2 linked regions of the Homo sapiens genome follow. The protein of the gene in region 1 binds, or shares a complex with, the protein of each later gene. Each region holds a gene or a part of one and is shown on either strand. Other genes may lie near its edges. The genes, in order: RAP1GDS1 and RHOA.

Region 1 (10,641 bases):
ATGTAAAATGTAACATTAAAATAATTTTTTTAATTTGTAAATTAAAATACATTTAAAATTTTAAAATATTTTCTAAAATGTAATATCTGTCATGCAGAGTGAGTTAAAAATATTTTTAAAAATCTATGTTTTCTCACAGATCTTTAAACAAGGTGAGAAATACAGCATGACTATACCTAGTGAACTGTTTCCACTTATTATTCACTTAGCCTTTACAACTGACCTCCATATCTACTAAACCTCTTAAAGTGGCTTTTTAGAAAAATATACTGGGTAATATCCTAACCAAAGCACTTAGAGCCTGTTCTCAGTCCCTATCACCCTCCTGACTGTTCTGAAAAAACAGACCTTATTAACTATTCACTCTTTCTTAAAACCAACCATATACCAATTCTAGTCTTTCACTCTGACTTCTGTGTTTTTCAGTGTGAAATCATACCATTCCTTTTTCCCTAACTACGGAAAACTTAAGGAACCCCATTCCTCAAGATTCTTACCATGAACAATTTTCCTCTTTTTCTTTGTTGACTCTTGTCCTCTGATCTAACTTCAAATATCACCTCAGGATATTTGTGGATAACTTCCAGATCTCTAATTCAAATTGTACTCTCGAAAGTTAAAATAAATGTTTGTCAACTATTTTTTATCTAGTTTCAGTCAGTCAACACAATTTTTCTATGTAGCTACTATGTGCCAGACACTAGTGTTAGAAATGTATTCAAATCCTAATATGACAACGTCCTTGTTATCAAGGAGCAGAGACTAAAGGACAGACCAAAAAGTCTAATGCAATAGGTCCAAAATTGAGTATCTAAGTTTCCTCTTCCTGTTAACTGAATATGTATCAGGAGATTCTCGTATCCTCATTATCACCCAGGCTAAAACCTGTGACTCTCAATTCCATACTCAATGGGTTGCCAAGTAAATCCTATTCTTTATTTGCAATATTCTATTCCCGTTGCCATAACCTGGTTCAAGCCATTAAACATTTTCGTCCAAACTCCAACAACAATCTTCTGAAGTGTTCTGTAGTTTCTCATCTAATCGATCCTGCACTCAACTGACAAATTTTCCTATACCACAGATGTGATCCATCACTTAACTACATAAAAATGTTTAGTGGTCTCTCAATAGGTAAGTCAGATTAAAATTCTTCAGCTTGGCATTTTAGATCCTACATTATCTGGTCATTAGCTATTACTGTACTACTTTTTCATGTCTGTTACCCACTATTTCCTTACCTTTTGCTCTAGCCAAACAATGCTGTTTAATCATATCCTGGAAATTCATAAAATGTTTCCTATCTATCTTCATTTATGTCATTTCTCTTCCAACCCCAGACCAACTCCATTCTGATTAACAGTCTCATTTCTACCTTTAAGAAGTTTAACCCACCTTTGGTTCAAATAACACCATTTCTCTAAAACGTTCTCTCCATTCTCTGAATCTATAATATATGTAAAGGTCTTTTATATAACTTATACTTTTACTTCTATTATAATTTGTGTATGTGTCATATTGTTCCTGCTAAGATTATAAATGTGAAACATGAATATCTTTTTATCTTTGTCCTCCCAGTACACTGTAGTACAGTACACTGCACAGTTGATATCCAACAAACACTAAATGTATGTTGAATCTGAAATATGACATATACATAAAATAGTAGCTATGGCCATAAAGTTATATAGGACTTTTCTTTCACTCTCTTGTGTAGGAAATTATTGCCATGAGAATATATATATATATTTTTTTTGAGACAGAGTTTCCCTCTTGTTGCCCAGGCTGGAGTGCAATGGCATGATCTCGGCTCACTGCAAACTCCGCCTCCCGGGTTCAAGTGATTCTCCTGCCTCAGCCTCCCAAACAGCTGGGATTACAGGCGCCCGCCACCACACCCGGCTAATTGTTTTTTTGTATTTTTAGTAGAGACAGGGTTTTACCATGTTAGTCAGGCTGGTCTCCAACTCCTGACCTCAGGTGATCCGCCCGCCTCGGCCTCCCAAAGTGCGCGCCCGGCTGAGACTATCTTTAAAAATCAACCTTATTTATTTCTTGAGACAAATTAAAAAGCACTTCTCCCTCCCCTCATCATTAACCAGTATACCTTCTACCTTCTTATGTGTACATGAATTGTTATACTAACTTCCTTGGCCCAGATATAAAACTGTTCCCCAAGGTTTCAATTTTAAATTATCATATGTACCTACTGATCATACATGAAACTGCCTTACCATTGAAGAGAGTTTAGAAGGAAACAGATTGCCTGAGGTTGACTCAAAACCAACCTACAGTGTACTGGGAGGCATGGTACAATTATACCTTTCTGTTTCTGCTTATCCCCCAACTAGATAATATGTACCAACCCAAATGTTTGTTCAGATGAAGACTATATCTTCAGGTTCAAAAGTTGAAAATAATAGGTGGCTTTAAGTTCAACAATTTGCCAAAGATTTACTGAATTTCTATTTGAAAAGCACTGTGGGGAACACAAAAAATAATAAGACACTTTTCATCTTCTGGGACTCATGATTAAATGCACAGCACACACATAAACAACTTTATTATATGGTAGATTACGTAAGTGCTAAAAAGCTTCTAACAAGGTACAAACAGTGCTTATGAAGAGACAGATTAACCAAAGAGTATCAGAGATGGCTTCAAAATGAGAGATAGGTTTCTATTTGGCCCTTTTTAAAAATCAAGCAATAGCACTCAAGATTTTGAAGATTATTTTTAAGTAGATAATTTCTTTTAGGTATTTTTATTCACCAGTGTTGTAACGGAATTGGATTTTTTCCACTGAAAAAGTACGGATTTAACATGTAAGCTAAAATGTTAAATGGATTGTTTAAGGCTCACCTGGAAACATGGGAAAATATATTTTGCAAGCCAAACTTGAACTTACAGTCCAATATCAGATAGGGTTATTGGACATACTGTATATTTCCTTTGAACATACACACACTTATCTGTGTATGTATGTTCAAAGGAATTTTATTTCAAAGTGTATTTTATCTGTGTATGTTCAAAGGGAACACACATAAACGTGTGTATGTTCGACGGAAATATACAGCTTGTCCAATAATCTGATATAATACCTATTTAAAAATCTACTTTAAGAGAAAGGCAGACACGCATAAATGGGCCACCCAATTTTTACAGAAATTTGTTCAGCATATCGAGTACTCACGTTAAAAAGAAAAAACAACTGAAAATAAAATTCAGAGCCCTAGACCTTTTTTGATTCATACCACCTCCTCCGTCAACCCTGGCCTCTTCCAGATATATGGCCAAAGGTCGGGATCAAAGCCTGAAGCATTTGCTGTTCCAGAAAACTCTATGGACACCATTCCCAGGTTTAGATACTTCTTGAAGATTCTGAGTTGCACCACCTAACTCTGAACGTGTTGAGCACTGTATTAACAGATGAAAGGACCACATTCATCTCAAGCTTTAAATAACTCGCACAGAAGGGGTGGGAAAAGTCCCAGCTGACAGATGCCAAGGGAGCAAATTTTAAAAAGAGGAAATTATGACAGACAGGAGTGGAAGCAAACTGGGGAACTTAGTACAAGTCGCTACTATTAAAAGAAACTTTGAGCTCTTAATTACATGACAGCATTCATCAGACGTTTCTGTGATTACTGAATGTAACAGTTAAGCAATAGATGATGTAAAAAAATTAGGTCAAATGTATATATCGTTTTATAAAACATATTTGCTCTTAAATCTCTCATCCAAACCAATCTCTTCAGATTAACTATAAATACAAAGGAACTAAAATCAGATTATGCAGATTAGACAGGAGGAAGCTGGGAAAGAATAACTACCATGTAAGTTCGGTAACAACGTTACAGGGCGCAGTTTCCTGCTACAGAAGACGGACGAAGGAATCCAGAAAATAGGCTGGGCACGGGAATATTGCACACTGTAGTCACCCAGCACTAATTCAACAGCTAGCGGCTCTATCCTGCCTCACGTTCCTCGTGGCCTCTGACAAGTCATCCTTTCAACCTATGAGGCTGTCCGCTCTCCCCCTTGGAAAATAATTTCCGTGCAGGTTGTAAGATCTCCCTCACAAACTACTTGCTTCCACTTCCCCGCCCGGGATGAGGAGTCTCCACGACGGGGAAAGGTCGCACTGACAGAGAAGGAAGTTACACGAAGTGGTAGTGGTCGGACCCGAGCCTCGAGCTCAGTACACGCGGGGGAAAAGGAAGCGGGCGGCCTCTGGAGAAACGGGGATGGAGCTGCAGATGCGAGCCCGCGAGGCAGGCTCCGTGGTGCCCGGGCACCGGCAGGAAGAATGGAGGAGGGGAGGCGAGGCTGCGAGGTGCCGGGGAGCCGGGCGGCGGTCCGGCCCGCGGCCGACCCCACCCCAGCCCGCGCTCGGGACCCTCCCAGCCCCGGCACCCGGCGTGCGTTCCGCGTGCGCCGACTCTCCCCGGAGGAACAGCCACCGTCTCACACCCGGGGACTGGAGAAATCCGGCAACTTTGCGCGAGAAATGCTTCCCACCCTGCAGCACGCCGAGAAAGAAAAAAATGTCAGGCGATGACGGCGGAGGAAGGATGACTTACCCATGTTGCTCCCCGAGGGTGAGGAACCGGCGGGGCGAGGCGAAGGTCTGTGGTGCGGGCGGCGCGGCTCTGTGTCCTCCCTCTACCTCCGTCTCTCCCGCAGCCAGGGAGGGACCCGCGGGGGGCGGCCGCCGGGGAGGAGCAGCTGGTGCTGCTGCAGGCGGCGCGGCCGCGGCGGGGACGAGCGGCGGGGGGCGGGGCGGGGCGGGGCGGGGCGGGACTGGCGGGCGCAGCCTGCGGCGGGCGCGGCTCCGAGCGGGCGGGCGGCGGAGGCGCGGGAGCCGGCCTGAAGAGCTCCGGCCCCGACTCGCAGCCCACGAGCGCCCCGCCCTCCCCACCGAGCATGCTCAGTGCCTTTTCCACCCCTCCCTCTGTGGCGAGCGAGGCTAAGCGTGCGGGTGGGCGTGTGTTTGCAGACCGGCTGCAGCCGCGGCAGAGGATCTTCATGGCGGCCGCCTGAGAGGCGGAGGGCGGGCCCGGAGAAAACAGGGAATGGGGATATTGAGCCCGATCTGCTAGCAGAGGACTCACCGCTGCCTTGCTTTCCCACCCTGACCCACCAACCCCTCACCCGGAACCCGGGCTTGCCTTCTTTACGGGACGACCGGGCCGCACAGGCCGGAATTAACCGGAGAAGAGGCTGGGCCGCCGCAGAGCCGGGAGGGGTGGTGGGAAGCCAGAGCTGACGAAGTTGGAAAGGACGTGTAGGCGACTAGGCCTGCGCCTCTTGGGGACACCTGAGGACGCCCGCTGGGCAGCTGGCTGAGGAGGGGCCGCCGGGAGGGCGCTCGATAGCAGGCGTGTCATTGGGACACTTAAGGCTGCTCTAGCTGTGGCCAGCTTAGAAACAAAGGTCCCGGCAGCGAGGAGAGCGCCCGCCCCAGGATTTCCTCGAAGAGTGTGTCGTTCTCCCTCCCGGAGGAGCGCGGCCTTCCGTTCCCCGGAGGGCTCTGGAAAGGCCCTTTAACCGGGGTGCCGTCGGGCTCCATCCTGCTGTGAAAGCGGGAGGAACTACGTTCCCCAGGCTTGAAAATAAGCGTCCTGCTGGGTTGGCTGCGGCACTGCCAAAGCTAACCCGGCGGAGGTCCTTTGATCCCGGGGCCACCGCCCGCTCCCACCACCACCTCGGCCTCGGGGAGAACCTGAGCAGGGCTCTCCCACTGAGGGCGTCCTCCCGACTGGGCATGCACGTGAGGCCGGGGCTGGCTTCGGTCCTCTTCCCTGGGGTAGGAGGCTGGAGGAAACCGATTTCTCTGCACCCTAATCTTGCCCTGGCTCCTCCTGAGTGGGGTGAGGAATCTGGTCGCTCTCCAAGGCTACAGCGACCGGAGTCCTTCAGGGGACACTGTGCAGTCAGCAGTACAACCTGTTGGAGAAAGATGGCTGAATCGAGGTGTCTTTCCCCTGTCAACTTTCACTCGGTCAATCCAATGTTGAGAAAGGGCTTTTTTTGTTTGTTTGTTAATTAGTCGCCTATTCTCACAGTCATCAGTTTCTGCTTGGTGACTAGTATTTCGAGCACACAAATCAGAAGCGACCCTGTAATTTGTTAAGCAAAGAGCAGATTTTATGTGATTTTTCTACAGCAAGAAACGATAATTAAAAAGGTTTGGTAAAACAGGAAAATACAATTTAACTGCTGAAGTCAAATATATGGGACTTTTCTGATGCATGAGACTATCAGGCACCTCACTCTTAGGATGTTCTTCTTGTTTGCCTCTTAAAATAATCGCACTACATTAGTTCCCTAGGGCTGCCGTAACATACCACAAATTGGGTGACTTAAAACAACAAATTATTATCTCACAATTCTGGAGGCCAGAAGTTTGAAATCAAGGTGTAGGCAGGGCTGTACTCCCTCTGAGGGCACTGGGGAGGGATCTCGTCCATGCCTCTCCTAGCTTCTGGTAGTTTCTTGGCATATGGTAGCGTAACTCCAATCTGAACATGGCTGTTCTCCCAGTGTGCTTGTGTGTTCAAATTTCCCTTTTTAATAAGAACAGCAGTCATAACGGATTAGGGGCGAACCATCCTCCAGTATGACCTCATGGACGTTAATTATATCTGCAATGACCCTATTTCCAAATCAGGTCACATTCTAAGGGACTAAGGGTTAGGACTTCTACATATGAATAGGGCCAGCCTGGCCAACATGACGAAACCCCATCTCTAACTAAAAATACAAAAAATTAGCCAGGGCCAGGCACAGTGGCTCACGCCTGTAATCCTAACACTTTGGGAGGCTCAGGAGGGCAGATCACTTAAGTCAGGAGCTGGAGATCAGCCTGGCCAACATGGCAAAACCCTATTTCTACTAAAAAATAAATAAAATAAATAAATTAGCTGGGCATGGTGGCACGTGTCTGTAATCCCAGCTACTTGGGAGGCTGAGGCAGGAGAATCGCTTGAACCCGGGAGGCGGAGGTTGCAGTGAGCTGAGATTGCACCACTGCACTCCAGCCTGGGCCACAGAGCAAGACCCTGTCTCAAAAAAAATAAAAATAAAAAAAAAGAATCCGGGAGGGGTACACAATTCAACCCATAATACACCAATGCAGACCCCACCCTCAGGGCCCCTCACTGCCCCCACATCGGCCATGTTACACATTAATTTTATTACTCCTCCAGAAGACCAGCCTGGGCCTTTGCATTGCTGCTCATCATTTTTTGTTCATCTCTCCTTAACACTCATTAATCTCTTCCAGATTGTCAAGTTAACTTGCTTTATTTTTCCTACTTCCTTATCTAATTACATATTATAATAATTTCATGGAGTATCTTCTATCATTTATTTGGATGTAAGCGTTGAAATTAGCAAAAGCAGCTGAAGTGGCTTTCTCATTTCCCATCTGACACTAGTTAAAGTGCCTTTTTTGTTCTACTTCAATCTACAAGCCATCTCCTTAGCCTTCCTGCCAATTAAAACCAAAGGATTGTTCAGGCTTAGTGCATATACTGAGTCCTAATGCACCGGTGTTGTAACCATAGTGAGAACCAATACTGATTGTTATATGCAGAAGTGAATTACTTCCAGACTGGTATATTGCCTACTCCTTGCACACACAATGCCACCTCCCTTCCCCTCTCCTTTCTTGTTCTATTATAAGAATATAATGTTTCTGTCTCATATCTTTACTTTCTTCCTTTATGTCTTTATTCAAAAGTTACCTGCATGATGTCTTCCCTAGTTATCTTATCTAAAATTTCAACACTCCTTCCCATTTCATATCCCCACTTCTATACTTTATTTTTTTTCCTTAGCAGTTATCAATAAGATAATATATATTTTGCTTTTGGACTGTCTCCCACATTTAAATGTAAGTTCTCCTAGGGAAATAATTTTTGTCTGCTGTATTTACCATTATAACCCCCGTGCCTAAATAGTGCTAGCACATAGCAAGTGCTTAATAAAAATTTGCTAGGTATGGTGGCTCACACCTATAATTCCAGCACTTAGGGAGGCCGAGGAGGGAGGATCACTTGAGGTCAGGATTCTGAGAGCAGCCAGTACAAGATAGCAACACCTTATATCTACATCTCTTGACATCCCTGATGTCAAGAGACTCTTCCAAAATCGATCTACTAATACCCATACTGTATGTTAGGCAATGGTCAGGATTTTATCAGGCCTGCTACAAAACAAAGGAAGTTCTGGCCCAGTGCAAAGGTTTTCAACTTCAATCTAGGAAATGTCATATTTATAAAGTATCACGGATTTATTTGAATAACAATTTCTGTTGAAAATTGGTTTATGATTACTAAATAGCTGTTATGGGGGAGTATCAAGGAAAATGTCTTTTAGAAAAGATCAGAAGCAGTACATTTTGGCAAGACTTATAACTTACCTCATTGATGCATGTAAGCTTAAAGAGGTTAGAAGGTGATTTAAATTCTTTAGAGGAAATCTATTGGGAGGGGCAACACAACAAGAAGTGGAAAGAGAGGAGAGAATGTTCTTTAAAAGTATAATAGGGAACTGATTGCCTCCTGTTCACCATGATGTTCTGAATATCATTTAAGGGAATTTCACTGGAGTAGTTAATTGAACTTTGCGGTGATAGAAAATGATTTGGCAGTGAACAGCCTTCTGCCTAAACTGTTTATTTTTCAGAGACTTCATTGGTGAGATCAAGTTAGTCCAGGTTGAACAACTGAAATGTCTTAACCTCAATGTAACCTCTTTCTCCCCCGCTCTCCATTTATTTAATATTTTAGCCATTTTCTAAATGTTGTAAAATCTAAATTATTTTCATAGGCTGTCACCTCAAACTAATGTCTACATGTTTCAAGCAACAACAGACCTAGATTACATACAGTTTTTAGATGGGATATACCACTTTAAAATCAGTCATGTAGTTATTGAACATTTCTTCTGAGCTCAGCACTGTGCTAGATGCTATAAAAGAACAGCTATAAGGGCCAGGCGCGGTGGCTCATGCCTGTAATCCCAGCACTTTGGGAGGCCGAAGCGGGTGGATTACGAGGTCAGGAGATCGAGACCATCCTGGCTAACATGGTGAAACCCCGTCTCTACTAAAAATACAAAAATAAACCAGGCATGGTGGCGGGCACCTGTAGTCCCAGCTACTCGGGAGGCTGAGGCAGGAGAATGGCGTGAACCCGGGAGGCAGAGCTTGCAGTGAGCCGAGATCGTGCCAGTGCATTCCAGCCTGGGCGACAGAGCAAGACTTCGTCTCAAAAAAAAAAAAAAAAAAAAAAAGAAATAGCTATAAGTACATATCATGCAAAACAAGAGAGTAAGAACAATCTCTCTTAAAAGTCTCTTCCTACTAGTTAAAGATAGCTGTATAAGGAGAACATACCTGAAGAATGGATAGAATTTTTCCGAGAAAGGATGGGAAGAAAAGAATTTACTCCAAGACAGGGAAACAGCATGTGGTAAGACACCTATAGGCCATATTCATAAGACCATTAAAAAGGGTACATATTGGCCGGGTGCGGTTGCTCACACCTGTAATCCCAGCACTTTGGGAGGCCGAGGCAGGCGGATCACTTGAAGTCAGGAGTTCAAGACCAGCCTGGCCAACATAGCGAAACCTCTTCTCTACTAAAAATACAAAAATTAGCTGGGCGTGGTGGCGCGTGCCTGTGGTCCCAGCTACTTGGGAGACTGAGGCAGGAGAATCACTTTAACCCAGGAGGTGGAGGTTGCGGTGAGCCAAGATCACACCACTGCACTCCAGCCTGGGTGAGGGAGTGAGACTCTGTCTCAAAAAAAAAAAAACAAAAAAAAACCAAAAAACAAAAAAACGATGCAGGGATACTTATTGTGGCATCTTGAGAAATAAGATTAAAAATTTAGTATGAAGAACAGATTGTGAGGGGCTGAAAAAGCCAGCCAGAGGAATTTAAACTTGTTAAGTTAGGAAATAAACCATTGAAAGTTTCTTGAGAAATGGAATAGCATGGCGAAAACAGTATAGAAGGAGGAGAAATAGTGCATCAAAGAAAGTAATTTTTATTGTTATTTAATATTATAATTTTAGTAATTATTGTAATTTTTTCTTTTTCTTTTTTTCTTTTTTCTTTTTTTTTTTTTTTTTTTTGAGACGGAGTTTCATTCTGTTGCCCAGGCTGGAGTGCAATGGCAATCTTGGCTCACTGCAACCTCCACCTCCTGGGTTCAACGGATTCTTCTGCCTCAGCCTCCTGAGTAGCTGGGGCTACAGGCGCCCGCCACCACACCCAGCTAATTTTTGTATTTTTAGTAGAGATGGAGTTTCACCATATTGGCCAGGCTGGTCTCGAACTACTGACCTTGTGATCTGCCCGCCTCAGCCTCCCAAAGTGTTGGGATTACAGGTGTGAGCCACCGTGCCCAGCCGTAATTATTGTAATTTAAGTAACATTAAGAGATGCATCATTCTGTCTGGGAATTAGGTATACAGGGTGAATTTTTGGTCCTGAAAGAGTATAGTGATAGAGACAGACATGTAAATAGTTAAAATATAGTGCTACAACTACCACAATGGGGTAGTGTGGAAGAATATGGGTATAACATTTAACTCTATCATAGAAAACCTCCTGGAGAAGATGC
Region 2 (10,507 bases), on another chromosome or scaffold:
TGAGCCACCGCGCCTGGCCACACTCAGCTAATTTTTAAGGTGTTTTTGTAGAGGTGGGTTCTCAGATTTTCAATTTTGAGAAATTTCAACCTAAAATAATTTAAATATACTCTCATTTGAGCTTGATGCTCATAAAAGTGAATACTCGGCCGGGTGTGGTGGCTCATGCCTGTAATCCCAGCACTTTGGGAGGCCGAGGCAGGCGGATCACGAGGTCAGGAGATCAAGACCATCCTGGCTAACATGGTGAAACCCCGTCTCTACTAAAAGTACGAAAAATTAGCCAAGCGTGGTGGCGGGCGCCTGTAGTCCCAGCTGCTCAGGAGGCTGAGGCAGGAGAATGGCATGAACCCGGGGGCAGAGCTTGCAGTGAGCCAAGATCTTGCCACTGAACTCCAGTCTGAGCAACAGAGTAAGACTCCGTCTCAACAAAAAAAAAAAAAAAAAAAAAAAAAAAAAAAAAGGCCAGGCGCGGTGGGTCACGCCTGCAATCCCAACACTTTGGGAGGCCGAGGCGGACGGATCATGAGGTCAGGAGATCCAGACCATCCTGGCTAACACAGTGAAACCCCGTCTCTACTAAAAATACAAAAAATTAGCCGGGTGTGATGGCGGGCACCTGTAGTCCCAGCTACTTGGGAGGCCAAGGCAGGAGAATGGTGTGAACCCGGGAGACGGAGCTTGCAGGGAGCAGAGATCGCGCCACTGCACTCTAGCCTGGGCGACAGAGCAAGACTACATCTCAAAAAAAAAAAAAAAAAAGAAAAAAGAAAAAATGTAAATACTCCTGTGTTTTACTGTTTTAGACCGTCTGCCATTTCAATGGTCTGCCATTTCAATGTACTATGGTAAGTGTCACTTTTTCTAAAAGTGGGTGGGGGGATTAACCTTGCACTCTTGTGGTTGTTTTTCCCATTACAGGTAGAGTTGGCTTTGTGGGACACAGCTGGGCAGGAAGATTATGATCGCCTGAGGCCCCTCTCCTACCCAGATACCGATGTTATACTGATGTGTTTTTCCATCGACAGCCCTGATAGTTTAGGTGAGTGGCCCTGCACCCTGATATTTGTCACTGCCTGTGTAGCTAGTTGGCATCTGGTTTCTGGGCATCAAGTGGCTGAAAAGCAGACATGAACTTCAGAGAAGCAATCATCGTCAGTGGCCGGAGTCCTGGAGTTTGGGATTGTAGAGCGTGGGCCTTGGGTCCCTTTCAGCCTAGGTCTCCCATGGGTACTGTATTTAAAATGTATCCACCTAGGCAGGGCACGGTGCCTGACACCTATAATCCCTGCGCTTTGGGAGGTCCAGACGGGTGGATCACCTGAGGGTCAGGAGTTCAAGACCAGCCTGGCCAACATGGTGAAACCCCGTCTTTACTAAAAGTACAAAAAAATTAGCCAGGCATGGTGGTGCACGCCTGTAGTCCCAGGTACTTGGGAGGCTGAGGCAGGAGAATCGTTTGAACCTGGTAGGTGGAGATTGCAGTGAGCCGAGATTATGGCACTGCATTCCAGACTGAGCAACAGAGCAAGACTCTATCTCAAAAATAATAATTATTATTATTATTACTAAATAATATTAAATGTTATTTAAAAATCTAACTGCCTTGTAAACTAGATGAATTCCAGATACAAAGATGAGTAAACTAAGGCTGGTGCGGCGGCTGACACCTGTAATCCTAGCACTTTGGGAGGCCGAGGCTGGCAGATCACCTGAGGTCAGGAGTTTGAGACCAGCCTAGGCAACATGGTGAACCCCTTGTCTCTACTAAAATACAAAAATTAGCTGGGTGTGGTGGCGTGCACTTGTAATCCCAGCTATTCCAGGGGCTGAGGCAGGAGAATCACTTGAGCCTGGGAAGCAGAAGTTGCAGTGAGCCAAGATCATGCCACTGTACTGCAGACTCCATCTCCCAAAAAAAAAGATGAGCAAACTAGATGAGTTCCAAATGTAAAGCCATCTCTTTTGGGGAAAGACTTTCTTTTTTTTGGTTGCCCTGTCTTAGCCTTTTTCTGAAGTGTCTTAGCTGATAGAAGCTTGAATGTGATCATTTCATTAGCCTAAACACAGCCACATAATTCAGAAGTCAGTAAGTCAGTATTCTTTTTTTTTTTTTTTTTTTTTTTTGAGAGGGAGTCTTGCTCTGTCTCCCAGGCTGGATTGCAGCAGCTTGATCTCAGCTCACTGCAAGCTCTGCCTCCTGGGTTGATGCCATTCTCCTGCCTCAGCCACCCAAGTAGCTGGGACTACAGGTGGCCACCACCACGCCCGGCTAATTTTTTGTATTTTTTAGTAGAGATGGGATTTCACCACGTTAGCCAGGATGATCTTGATCTCCTGACCTCGTGATCCGCCTGCCTCGGCCTCCCAAAGTGCTGGGATTACAGGCGTGAGCCACTGCGCCTGGCCCAGAAGTCAGTATTCTTTAGAAAAAGACTGAAGAATGCTAACCTGACATTCTGTGAAACCAGGCTTGAAAAAACTTGCTTTAGGTTTGTGCTGAAGATGATGAGGTATCTATTAATAAACTTGTGCTGCAGCCCTCCCTGTCATGACAGGGCAGCAGGTGGGTCAAGGATGTTGTCGTCATTACCACAAACAGCCTTTGAGGGTCTGCTTGTGGCCTCGGGTTGCCTGGATAGTTAGTGTTAGAGTGATTGTGTTGTTATGGTTGTCCCTACCTTAATGATGATAACTGGGGTTGCTCCAAGATATTGAGCCACTTGTTTAAGGTCATGCTGGCCCAAGGAGCTGAGCTAAGATTGAGTCCTCTGTGCAGTATGTCCCAGGACAGAGAAAGAGCACGTATTCCATGCCGTTGGTTCACTTAGATCATTTTCAGCAGTTATGATTGATTGATTGATTTAGAGGCGGGGTCTCGCTCTGTTGCCCAGGCTGGAGTTGAGTGGCACAATCTTGGCTCACTGCAACCTCCGCCTTCCAGGTTCAAGCAAATCTCCTGTCTCAGCCTCCCAAGTAGCTTGGACTACAGGCATACGCCCCCACGCCTGGGTGATTTTTGTATTTTTAGTAGAGACCGGGTTTCTCCGTGTTGGCCAGGCTTCTCTCAAACTTCTGACCTCTGGTGATCCACTCACCTTGGCCTCCCAAAGTGCTGGGATTACAGGTGTGAGCCACCACACCCAGCCTAGTTTTGGTTTTCAAACTAATATGACTTCCTTTTGTGAAGCTGCTGGAAGGCCCTGGAGGCTGGGCAGAGCTTTAGGCCACAGAGAAAATTTGAGCTAGTTGACACTCTCCTATCAGATACACACATAAATAACTTCACCTAGATCCTATTGGAATGAGAAGGACTGTGTGCCTTTGCCCTCGTTATCTAGTGTATAATTCTTGAGGGAAAAAACTGCCTCCAGAGCAAAACATTTTGTCTCTTCAGTCTCACTTTTTTCTTTTTGAGACAGGGTCTCGCTTTCTTGCCCAGTCTTGAGTGCAGTTGCAGATTCAGTTTACTGCTGCCTCGACCTCCTGGGCTCAAACAATCCTCCCATCTCAGTCCCCACCCAGTAGTTGGTACTACAGGCACACACTGCTGCGCTTGGTTAATTTTTATATTTTTTAGGCCGGGCATGGTGGCTCACGCCTGTAATCCCAGCACTTCGGGAGGCTGAGGTAGGCGGATCACCTGAGGTCAGGAGTTCGAGACCAGCCTGGCCAACATGGTGAAATCCTGTCGCTACTAAAAATACAAAACTTAGCCAAGTATGGTGGCATGTACCTGTAATCCCAGCTACTCAGGAGGCTGAGGCAGGAGAATTGCTTGAACCTGGGAGGCAGAGGTTGCAGTGAGCCGAGATCGCATCACTGCACTCCAGCCTAGGTGACAGAGTGAGACTCTTGTCTCAAAAAAAAAAAAAAAAAAAGTTTGAAAATTTATTCACCAAAAGTGGCGACAGTCAATTTATTCAAATTCTATGTACCTCAAACTCCAGGAAGGGGGTAGACTATTGGTATAATTTCACATATTCAGGAAATAACTACAGCACCTACTAACAGAACATCTATTCTAGGCCAGGCACTGTGGCTCACACCTGTAATCCCACCACTTTGGGAGGCCAAGGTGGGTGGATCCTGAGGTCAGGAGTTCAAGACCAGCCTGTCCAACATGGTGAATCCCTGTCTCTACTAAAAATACAAAAAAATCATCCGGGCGTGGTGGCGAGTGCCTGTAATCCCAGCTACTCGGGAGGCTGAGGCAGGAGAATTGCTTGAACCCGGGAGGCAGAGGTTGTAGTGAGCTGAGATTGCGCCACTGCGCTCCAGCCTGGGCGACAGAGCAAGAGTCCATCTAAAAAAAAAAAAAAAAAACTTCTGTTCTAGATGAGGGAAGACAGAATAGGCTCCCCTCAATGCCCCCAAAAAAGTAAATCAGAAAATAACAACAGTAAACCCAGTAACAGTAAATATTACAAATAACATTTGTAGAGGTGGGTCATGGTTGTATGCTGTTTTGTTTTATTTATTTTTATTTTTGTTTTTTTGAGACAGACTTTTGCTCTTGTCACGCAGGCTGGAGTGCAATGGTGCGATCTCAGCTCACTGCACTCCGCCTCCCGGGTTCAAGCACTTCTTCTGCCTCAGCCTCCCAAGTAGCTGGGATTACAGGCATGCACCACCATGCCTGACTAATTTTTGTATTATTAGTAGAGACAGGGTTTCAACATGTTGGCCAGACTGGTCTCAAACTCCTGATCCACCTGCCTCGGCCTCCCAAAGTGCTGAGATTACAGGCCTGATGAGCCACTGCACCTGGTCTATTTATTTTTATTTATTTATTTATTTATTTATTTTGAGACGGAGTCTCGCTCTGTCGCCCAGGCTGGAGGGCAGTGGCACGATCTTGGCTCACTGCAACCTCCACCTCCCTGGTTCAAGGAATTTCCCTGCCTCAGCCTCCCTAGTAGCTGGGATTACAGGTGTGCACCACCATGCCCAGTTAATTTTTTTGTTTTGTTTTGTTGTTTTTGAGACGGAGTTTCGCTCTTGTTGCCCAGGCTGGAGTGCAATGGCACGATCTCGGCTCACTGCAACTTCCGCCTCCCGGGTTCAAGCGATTCTCCAGCCTCAGCCTCTCAAGTAGCTGGGATTGCAGGCATGTGCCACCACGCCCAGCTAATTTTGTATTTTTAGTAGAGACGGGGTTTCTCCATGTTGGTTATGCTGGTCTCCCAACTCCCGACCTGAGGTGATCCACCCGCCCCGGCCTTCACAGTGCTGGGATTATAGGCATGAACCACTGCGCCTGGCAATCTTTTTGTATTTTTAATAGAGATGGGGTTTCACCATGTTGGCCAGACTGGTCTCGAACTCCTGACCTAACGCGATCCACCTGCCTCAGCCTCTCAAAGTTTTGGGATTATAGACGTGAGCCACTGCGCCCAGCCTATTTATTTGTTTTTAAGAGATGAAGTCTCACTTTGTCACCCTGGCTGGAGTGCAGTAGTAGCGTGATCATAGCTCACTGCTACCTTGAATCCTGGACTCCAGTGATCCTCCCACCTCAGCCTCTCAAGTAGGTGGGAATGCAGGCACATGTACCACTGTAAACTGCTAAGTTTTTGTATGTTTTTGTGGAGATGGGGTTTTTGACTTTTTTGATACAGAGTCTCACTCTGTTGCCCAGGCTGGAGTGAGTGTAGTATTGCGATCTCGACTCATCACAACCTCCACCTCCTGGGTTCAAGTGTTTCTTCTGCCTCAGCCTCCCAAGTAGCTGGGACTATAGGTGCACACCACTGCGCCCGGCTAATTTTAGTAATTTTAGTAGAGATGAGGTTTCGCCATGTTGGCCAGGCTGGTCTCGAACTCCTGACCTCTGGTGATCCACCCACCTAAGCCTCCCAAAGTGCTGGGATTACAGGCACGAGCCACCACGCTGTCTGGAGATGGGGTTTAGCCATGTTGCATAGGCTGTTCTTGAGCTCCTAGGCCCAAGCTGTCTACTTGCCTTAGCCTCTCAAAAGTGCTGGAATTACAAGTATGAGTCACCACGCCCAGCCTCTTTTGGTTATTTTCAAAAGTCACTTTTTTTTATTTGAGACGGAGTCTTGCTCTGTCGCCCAGGAGTGCAGTGGCGCGATCTCAGCTCATGGCAAGCTCTGCCTCCCGGGTTCACACCATTCTCCTGCCTCAGCCTCCTGAATAGCTGGGACTACAGGTGCCCACCACTACACCCGGCTAATTTTTTTTGTATTTTTAGTAGAGACGGGGTTTCACTGTGTTAGCCAGGATGGTCTCGATCTCCTGACCTCATGATCCGCCCACCTTGGCCTCCCAAAGTGCTGGGATTACAGGCATGAGCCACCGCTCCCGGCCAAAAGTCACTCTTCAGCCATTTGAAATACCAGTAAACCCCATAGGGTAGAAGTTATGCTGAGAGTTGATGAACAAGTTAGAAAAAGAACATGTGGACCCTGGGTCAGCTGCTGCCCTAGAATGGGGACCCCTTCTGTAAGCTATGTCAGAATCATCTACCAGCAGTGACAGATGTCCTGTAAAGTGCCTGCCTTTGTGGGGCAGGAAGTGCCCCCCGTGAAACTACCTTGTGTTGTGGATCTTTTGCTCCTCCAGAGCCCTTACTCGGGCCCCACCTACAGAGATGCTCAGCACCACTCTTGGCTGGACTGAGAAAAAGCTGTTGGTTCTCTGTTTAAAGGAAAGGGATTATATTTCCTTTTTATGGTTTTGAAACTAGTGAGTTTCATTAAATGTCTAGCATTTTTCTGAAGCCACAAAGAAAGTGTCTCTGCAATTTCACTGAGGTTCTTGGAAAGTCTTCAAGATAGAATTGTATGTATCCCCAAATTCTCTACATTTTTCTTTCAGAAAACATCCCAGAAAAGTGGACCCCAGAAGTCAAGCATTTCTGTCCCAACGTGCCCATCATCCTGGTTGGGAATAAGAAGGATCTTCGGAATGATGAGCACACAAGGCGGGAGCTAGCCAAGATGAAGCAGGCATGATCTGGGGCAGGACTGTCTTGTAGTATTCTTGAACTAGGGCCCCAAGTTTGGAGGTTTGGGGAGCCCAGCAGGAACCTTCACAGGCCAGGTTGTTTTAGAGGCTCAGAAGCCCCTCTGTGGCCCTCTGACCCTCATTAATTGGGATCTTCACAGAAGATCCCTAAGATAGTTCACCAGTCCTGTGAGATGGAATGTTTTTTTATGAGGTAGTGCTATGCCCATAAGGACTGCTGGCCTGAGAATGAACCATTTCATTAGTAGCTAGTAATCAGTGGCTCTAGATGTAGGAACTTTCTTTTTTTTGATATGGAGTCTCATTCTGTCACCCAGGCTGGAGTGCAGTGGCGCAATCTCAGCTCACTGCAACCTCCGCCTCCGGGGTTCAAGCGATTCTTCTGCCTCAGACTCCCGAGTAGCTGGGACTACAGGCACCCTCCACCATGACCGGCTAATTTTTTTTTTTTTTAATAGATGGGGTTTCACCCTGTTGGCCAGGCTGGTCTTGAACTCCTTACCTCAAGTGATCTGCCCACTTTTGCCTCCCAAAGTGCAGGGATTACAGGTGTGAGCCACTGTGCCTGGCCTCTGTTAGACTCTTTATTTTTATTTTTTGAGACACAGTTTTGCTTTTGTCACCCAGGCTGGAATGCAGTGATGCTATCTCGGCTGCAACCTCAGCCTCCAAGGTTTAAGTGATTCTCCTGCCTCAGCCTCCCAAGTTGCTGGGATTACAGGCATGTGCCACCACGCCTGGCTAATTTTTGTATTTTTAGTAGAGACGGGTTTTCTCCATGTTGGTCAGGCTGGTCTCAAACTCCTGACCTTAGGTGATCTGCCCGCCTTGGCCTCCCAAAGTGCTGGGATTACAGGTGTGAGCCACCACGCCCGGGCCTGTTAGACTCTTGATTGCCTTCCCCAGCTATTACTTTGGTACATGTGAGGCCAAAGATAAATTAGTGGCAACTGAAAGATAAGGAAATCTTGAAGGCTGGGAGTCCAGATAGAAAGCCCTAATGCCTTCCCTCTCCTCCACTCCCAATGCCTTTTTAAAAGTGATGATGGATGTGGCATCTTGGCCTCTCAGAAACCAGCTGGCCTAATGGCAGGGCTTCCTCACTGGAGGAGAAGCATTGAGATCTTCAACCTAAGTTCTCTTACTCAGGTTTCTCTGTCTGAATGTCAAGGGTAGGCTTTATTTCCTTCAGGGCATTTAGTCCTGGATTGGTAGCTTGAGTAATTTTGCTCTTGATTGACTCCTTAACCTTCCAGGGCTCCTCTGACCTCTTCCCTCTACTTCCCAGTGAATACCATGTTTATTAGAGATTTTATGTTTGGTAGGGGGTAGTTACCATATGTCAGTTTAAAAATTTCATAAGTTTAGCAGTTTGTTGTTTTTTTTTTTTGTTTTGTTTTTTTTGAGAAGGAGCCTCACTGTGTCGCCAGGCTGGAGTGCTGTGGCACGATCTTGGCTCAACTGCAACCTCCGCCTCCCAGATTTAAGCGATTCCCCTGCCTCAGCCTCCTGAGTAGCTGGGGTTACAGGCGCCCACTACCACACCCAGGTGATTTTTTGTATTTTAGTAAAGAGGGGTTTCACCATGTTGGCCAGGATGGTCTTGATCTCCTAAACTCGTGATCCGCCCAGCTCAGCCTCCCAAAGTGCTGGGATTACAGGTGTGAGCCACCACACCCAGCCAAGTTTAACAGCTTTTGAAAGTCTTTTTTTTTTTTAGGCTGGGTACAGTGGCTCATGCCTGTATCCCAGCACTTTGGGAGGCCGAGGTGGGCAGATCACTTGGTCAGGAGTTCGAGACCAGCCTGGCCAAAATGGTGAAACCCCATCTCTACTAAAAAATTACTTGGGCGTGGTGGTGGGCACCTGTAGTCCCAGCTACTCGGGAGGCTGAGGCGGGAGAATCCCTTGAACCCAGGAGGTGGAGGTTGCAGTCAGCTGAGATCATGCCATTGCCCTCCAGCCTGGGCGACCGACGAGCAAAACTGTCTCAAAAAAAGAAAAAAAAATCTTTTAGATGAATTTGAATACTTTTTACTTACTATATGTATGCCACACTATTAGCTAAAAGGACTATTTTTTTTTCTTTGCTAGGAGCCGGTGAAACCTGAAGAAGGCAGAGATATGGCAAACAGGATTGGCGCTTTTGGGTACATGGAGTGTTCAGCAAAGACCAAAGATGGAGTGAGAGAGGTTTTTGAAATGGCTACGAGAGCTGCTCTGCAAGCTAGACGTGGGAAGAAAAAATCTGGGTGCCTTGTCTTGTGAAACCTTGCTGCAAGCACAGCCCTTATGCGGTTAATTTTGAAGTGCTGTTTATTAATCTTAGTGTATGATTACTGGCCTTTTTCATTTATCTATAATTTACCTAAGATTACAAATCAGAAGTCATCTTGCTACCAGTATTTAGAAGCCAACTATGATTATTAACGATGTCCAACCCGTCTGGCCCACCAGGGTCCTTTTGACACTGCTCTAACAGCCCTCCTCTGCACTCCCACCTGACACACCAGGCGCTAATTCAAGGAATTTCTTAACTTCTTGCTTCTTTCTAGAAAGAGAAACAGTTGGTAACTTTTGTGAATTAGGCTGTAACTACTTTATAACTAACATGTCCTGCCTATTATCTGTCAGCTGCAAGGTACTCTGGTGAGTCACCACTTCAGGGCTTTACTCCGTAACAGATTTTGTTGGCATAGCTCTGGGGTGGGCAGTTTTTTGAAAATGGGCTCAACCAGAAAAGCCCAAGTTCATGCAGCTGTGGCAGAGTTACAGTTCTGTGGTTTCATGTTAGTTACCTTATAGTTACTGTGTAATTAGTGCCACTTAATGTATGTTACCAAAAATAAATATATCTACCCCAGACTAGATGTAGTATTTTTTGTATAATTGGATTTCCTAATACTGTCATCCTCAAAGAAAGTGTATTGGTTTTTTAAAAAAGAAAGTGTATTTGGAAATAAAGTCAGATGGAAAATTCATTTTTTAAATTCCCGTTTTGTCACTTTTTCTGATAAAAGATGGCCATATTACCCCTTTTCGGCCCCATGTATCTCAGTACCCCATGGAGCTGGGCTAAGTAAATAGGAATTGGTTTCACGCCTGAGGCAATTAGACACTTTGGAAGATGGCATAACCTGTCTCACCTGGACTTAAGCATCTGGCTCTAATTCACAGTGCTCTTTTCTCCTCACTGTATCCAGGTTCCCTCCCAGAGGAGCCACCAGTTCTCATGGGTGGCACTCAGTCTCTCTTCTCTCCAGCTGACTAAACTTTTTTTCTGTACCAGTTAATTTTTCCAACTACTAATAGAATAAAGGCAGTTTTCTAAACTTCCTGTATCCTGTTGTTTGTGTTGCTCTCTCCAGGGCTGGGGGTAGGAGGATGCAAGGACTTCCTGGCCTAGCTCACCCTGGAGAGGTTTGTTGAGTGCAAAGGACTAGCTTGTGCCCCACCTCCCACCCACCCAGCAGCTAATCTGGTCCCTCCCAACAACATGGAAATGATTACCCTG

Evidence for each region.
Region 2: the proteins of RAP1GDS1 (region 1) and RHOA are in contact, whole or in part, in a crystal structure (PDB 5ZHX), measured with the Homo sapiens proteins. Residues at the interface, in NP_001093897.1 of Homo sapiens: Arg111, Tyr118, His121, Ser171, Glu200, Met201, Val204, Asn208, Glu211, Leu212, Glu213, Ala249, Glu253, Lys290, Thr291, Asp294, Leu295, Val297, Leu298, Leu301, Asp303, Leu334, Leu338, Ala341, Asn342, Ala344, Arg345, Asn346, Asp347, Cys350; in NP_001300870.1 of Homo sapiens: Ala3, Ile4, Arg5, Lys6, Asp13, Lys18, Lys51, Asp65, Tyr66, Asp67, Arg68, Leu69, Arg70, Pro71, Leu72, Ser73, Tyr74, Lys98, Trp99, Pro101, Glu102, His105, Phe106, Leu179, Cys190, Leu191.

The regions. Positions count from the first base shown.
Region 1 is NC_000004.12:98,255,512-98,266,152, reverse strand, and holds the start of RAP1GDS1 (rap1 GTPase-GDP dissociation stimulator 1), read right to left. Parts: upstream 4,770-10,641; 5' UTR 4,588-4,769; coding exon 4,584-4,587; intron 1-4,583. UniProt on the Homo sapiens protein: Acts as a GEF (guanine nucleotide exchange factor) for the Rho family of small GTP-binding proteins (G proteins) that stimulates the dissociation of GDP to enable subsequent binding of GTP.
Region 2 is NC_000003.12:49,358,963-49,369,469, reverse strand, and holds the end of RHOA (transforming protein RhoA isoform 1 precursor), read left to right. Parts: intron 1-921; coding exon 922-1,042; intron 1,043-6,843; coding exon 6,844-6,974; intron 6,975-8,403; coding exon of another isoform or gene 8,404-8,542; intron 8,543-9,087; coding exon 9,088-9,261; 3' UTR 9,262-10,325; downstream 10,326-10,507. UniProt on the Homo sapiens protein: Small GTPase which cycles between an active GTP-bound and an inactive GDP-bound state.